Regions from separate parts of the Homo sapiens genome. Here region 2 is linked to region 1. Evidence: fine-mapped expression QTL. Tissue or cell type: whole blood. Region 1 holds a variant in brackets; the other region holds the start of a gene. All regions are shown on one strand. Distances are between the middles of the regions.

What was found. PIP is the estimated chance that this variant, and not a neighbour inherited with it, causes the effect.
Region 2: it holds the start of SMURF2, and the variant in region 1 is fine-mapped to the expression of SMURF2 in whole blood (INTERVAL, PIP above 0.99).

The regions. Positions count from the first base shown.
Region 1 is chr17:64,594,931-64,597,693 of GRCh38, forward strand. All of the region lies in intron 3 of SMURF2 (SMAD specific E3 ubiquitin protein ligase 2), which reads right to left. Among named protein-coding and RNA genes, the nearest start is that of SMURF2, 66 kb to the right of the region's middle. The variant CA/C (reference allele first, on the strand shown) is at 1,655.
Region 2 is chr17:64,661,151-64,663,650 of GRCh38, forward strand. SMURF2 (SMAD specific E3 ubiquitin protein ligase 2) reads right to left here and starts at 1,157. Exons shown (of 19, transcript NM_022739.4): 1 at 679-1,157. The coding sequence starts at 730. RefSeq lists silencers at 651-850, 901-1,300 and an enhancer at 1,451-2,009.

The sequences.
Region 1 (2,763 bases):
GGTGAGCCTAGATTGCGTCACTGCACTCCAGCCTGGGCAACAAGAGCAAAACTCCGTCTCAAAAAAAGAAAAAAAAAAGTTACGTTAAACCAGTTGTCCAACTAGTAAGCCTGGTTTACAGGTATGCTGAAATACATATATTGATTACCTCAGTCCTCAGGGCAACGCACCACTGGCTTAAGCAACTTCATCTGTGTAGTCCAATGTGCCATATTTTTTATGTGTACCATGATATGAAAAGGTTGGGAAGCTCTACATTAAATCATAATAAGAAATTGCTAATTATAGACCTTCTGGAAGATAGCCTAACTCTGAATTACTAAAAATTATGAAATATATTGTATTACTTAAGCGTACATGTCACAAACATTCTGTCCAAATATTCCTGGGCCAGAAATGAATCCAAAATATTACCTTTTCTTATACATAGAGAAGTACATGCTCTCACTTTAATGAAACCTCATGTAATATAACATACATGGCAACAAAAACAGTAAATTCCTTTTGCAATTGAAAGTTAAATAGAGGGCTCTATTAGCTTCTATTAAAACTTTGACTTACTAACAAATACATGATTTATAAACAAGTTTCAGGATGTTTTGTTGAAAGGGAGAGAGGGACACCTCTATAGGTGAATACAATGTTACCATATAGACCAAAATATGTACTCAGGATTTTGGGCTAAAATTTAATTATTAGATTTTGTTTGTATACTTAGCCAATTAAAGGCAAGGGTTTTGTAAAATGACTTTGGAAACAATCATAAGAGATGCTTCTGACAGCCAATTAATATTAATTGTAAGATAAAACCTAATAAGTACAAGAAAGATGTTCAACATCATTAGTCATGATGCACCTCAAAACCATGACCAGATACAACTTCATACCCACTAGGGTGGCCACAATTTTTTTTAAAAGAAAATAACAGTGACAGAGGAATAAAGAAACTTCCAGTGGAAAACAACAGTCATGAAAGATCAAAATCAGGATGCCATCAGCAATACTCTAAACCTACAATTTCCAAAATGGTACCCACCAACCACGAGACCCTTGAGGACTTCAAGTGTGGCTAGTCCAAATTGAGGCAAGCTGCAAAATAAACCACTGATTTTTTTTTTTCTTAACATAAAATGAGAAAACCGCTGATTTTTTAGAGACATAGTAAATATGTATATATACATATATGTGTAAGTAGCTCAATATTTTTATACTGACATGTTGAAAGTATTTTTGATATACTGAATTAAATAAAATATATTATTATGCTTCATTTTAAGAAACAGGGTCTCGTTATGTTGTAGCTGGATTACAGGTGCAAGCCACTATGCCCAGTTTATTATGCTTAATGTCATCTGTTTCTTTTTACTTATCTTAACGTGGATGCTAGGAAATTTAAAATTATAGATGAGCTCCCATCTGTGCCTTACATTATATTTCTACTCAACAGTATGGATCTAAACCTAGAAGATAATGGAGCAATGTATTCAACATTTGGAGGTAAAGTGATATTTCACCTAGAAGCCTATATTCAAACCATATCAAAAGATAAGAAGTCAAAGTATATCTTCTGATAAGATCTCAACTTTCTTCCCATCTTTGTATTATTTCTCAAAATGACAATGGAAGATAAAGTTCACCGAAACAGGAGAGTAAA[CA/C]AAAAAAAAAAAAAAAAAAAAAAAGGAAGTCACTAAACCTAGAAGAGACAAAGGAAATTGCCAACATAACAATAAAGGCAAGTCCCAGGACAACTGCGCAGTGGGTCTTAGAGAACCATCACACAAGACTAAAGAAAGAGAACACAGACTCCCAGGAGGGTTATCTCCAAGAAGAAAAAAAGCCAATGGAATACTGACAGAACTGAATATATGGAGAAAAGATCTTTAGTTCTATAGGAGAGTCTGAGGATTATGACATATAACTTCTCATTTCTATCTAGGAGATAAATAGATAACTAAACAAATGGGAAAAGTAGCTACTAACTTCAGAAAAAACAAAAGTTGTCAAGAAAGAAAATGTAATTCTTGTACCCCTGTGACCCAACTATGGATATTTACATAATCATAATAATGTAAACATGGAACAATGGTTTAACCAAAAAGGTTCATATAATTATATTGGAAGACTAAAGAAAGGAAGAGGCTTGTGTCATGAGAATGGGGATGCTGAATACCAATTTTAAAAGCTGAACCACTGGGCTGGGCATCACAGCCCACGCTTGTAATCCAAATACTTTGGGAGGCCAAGGAGGGAGAATCTTGAGCCCAGGAATTCAAGACCAGACTGGGCAATATAGCAAGACCCCATCTCTACAAAAAATTACCTTAAAAAAAAAATTAGCTGGGCATGGTGGCATGCACCTGTAGTTCCAGCTACTGAGGAGGGTGAGGTGGGAGGATCAGTTGAGTCCAGGAGTTAGAGGCTACACTGAGCTATGATTATGCCACTGCACTCTGGCCTGAGCAATAGAGTGAGACTGTTTCTAATTTTAAAAGAATTTTTAATAATAAAAAATAAAGCCGAATCATCTTCTAGGTAGGAAATTCAAAAATACCTAAAACTAGGCTGGGCGCAGTGGCTCATGTCTGTAATCCCGGCACTTTGGGAGACCGAGGCAGGCGGATCACTTGAGGTCAGGAGTTCGAGACCAGCCTGGCCAACATGGTGAAATCCCATCTCTACTAAAAATACAAAAATTAGCTGAATGTGGTGGTGGGCACCTGTAGTCCCAGCTACTCGGGAGGCTGAGACAGGAGAAATGCTTGA
Region 2 (2,500 bases), 66 kb after region 1:
ACAACCCCAAACATGCCACCCTACAATCAGACACTTCCAAAACACAGTGTACAATGAGCCCAAGCCGTCGGATCAGACAGGCACACCGGAAAAGTCAACCTGTCTCCTCACCTCAGAGACATGAGTTTAAGGTGTGTGGCCCGGGCAGCGGTGGCCGGCGGCGGGGAGTAAAGGTTTTTCATGCGGGCATAACTGGGTGTGTGCAAGGTAACAACCCGGGAACACACACGCACACCCTCCCGTTAAGCGCTCCATCTTTAAGGAGTGTTTACTGCGCGCAGTCAGCAACCGGATTCAATAATCCTCGCCACGGGAGCTCTTCATCCCCTTCACGATCTCACCTGGGCGGTAGCCCAGGGGCTGTTCCCCGAGCCCCGGGAGGCAGCGTCTGGCTCCTTGACCAAGACTTTCCGACCTGAAATCCGCCTGCGATGCGAACCGGTGTATTCTCCCCTCCACAAAACACCACCCCCCGCCCCGAGTCATCCTCGGCTTTTTAAACAATGTCCAAACCAGAGCAAGTGGTTTTCCAATTACTCTCCCTGAACTAGGCCTTCCCATTCCTCCGACCCCCAACTCATCATTGATCGCGACCCTGGCCCTTCCCAAGGCCACAGGCACCCCCCGCCAGCTCGCCCACCCCGCGGCTGCCCAGCCCGGCCCGCCGCCCCCCCTCACCTGTCAGGCGCAGCTTGACGGGCCCGTTCCTCCGGCCTCCGGGGTTAGACATGTCCCCGGCGGCGGGGGCGGCGGGGGCGGCGGGCGGCACGGGGGCGACGGCGAGGCGCGGCGGAGTCACCACAGCGGCCGGGGCTGGGGCCCGAGCAGCCGGCGCCTCGGCCGCCACGGCCGGAGGGTCCCGGATGTGCCGAGAGTCGTCGCCATGAGCCGCGGAGGGAGCGGGACGCCGAGCTCCCCCCTCCTCCCACTTCTCCTTCCTCGGCCCGGGCCGCACAACAAAGCGGCAGCCGCGGCCGCCCGCGCCGCCTCCGCCCGCGCCCCCGCCGCCTCCTCGCGGCCGCCGAGGCCTTTCCCTCCTCTCGTCTCGGCGAGGCCCAGTAGCCGACGGGGCTGGTCGGCTGAAGCGGGCGGTGCTCGGGGGCGCCGGAGCAGAACTCTGGGCTCGGCCGCTTCCTCCTCCACCCGCCCTCTTGTCTGAGGGACCCGGGACCTGGGGCCGCCGCCGCCACTCGTCGGCTCCGGGGGGCGGGGAGGAGACGGGAGGCGGGGCCGGCGGGGCGGGGCGGGGCCGGGGCGGGGCCGGCGGGCGCGCGCAGGGTGCCCTGGCGGGCACCGGCAGTCAGGGAGGGTGTGAGCTGCCGCCGAGGGTCCCACGCGGAACGCTGGGAGGGAGCAGGCAGGGAGCAAAGCGGCGGCGGGCGCGGCAGCTCTGTGGCACCTGGAGGGGTTTACTGTCCGGGCCACTTAAGGGAGAACTTTTGTCCAAGCAGGGCCAACTGCATTTTATTAGACGCCCACTGCGTGCAGGGCGCTCCGAGAGGCTGGGGCGAGGAAGGTTAGAACCGAGTCCGCTGCCTGCCGGGAACTTGGCGTCTTTCGGGCGAGGGAAGAGAAAGCATTCCCACGCCGATGGTTCCAGCAAAACCCCAGGAATGCTCTGCTCCTGGTCTTGTAGTTGACACCTCCATCCGGGACTCACCTGGTGGAGGAGATCAGGTTACCTGCCGACTCCCGCTCTTTTCAGGTGCAGCCAAGGATGGGGAGATGATACGTCTTAAAGGATTAACAAGATAAACCTTGGAGAGTAATGTATGAAGAGTTGTTCATACGCTACTGTATTTCGTTATCTCAGGAGGAGAAAGAGAAAAGTTTTTAAAAAATGTGTACCTTATCCTTTGACATTGTAACTGTACTGCTAGAAATTTATTTTTTATTTTTTTGTTTTTAGACAGGGTCTCCCTCTGTCGCCCAGGCTGGAGTGCAGTGGTGCGAACACGGCTCACTGCAGTCTCAACTTCCGGGGCTCAGGTGATCCTCCCACCTGAGCCTCTGGAGTAGCTGAGACCACAGTGTGCACCACTACGCCCCACTAATTTTTGTATTTTTAGTAGAGACATGTTTAGTAGAGACGTTTAGGTTTTCCCATGTTGCCCAGGCTGGTCACGAACTCCTGACCTCAAGCGATCAGCCCGCCTCGGCCTCCCAAAGTGCTGGGATTACAGACCTGAGCCACCGCACCGGCCCTATTCTTGACAAATAATCGTACAGAAGATGTTCTTTGCTATATTCCATTAATAACAAAAGGGGAATGAGGGAATAGCATAATAGTCCAGGAACCGCATGGTTTTTTATGCAGCCATGTAACTATTTTTATGAAGATCATATAATATGGAAGAATGTATATGTAATGCAAAGTTTAAAAACAGAATAGAAGTTGTATGCATATACATGCGAAAGTATCTAGCACAATGTAAACTACTAAGGACAATAGCGTGGGGGATTTTTTATGTGATTCGTTAGTTTTGCTTTAGGCTATTAT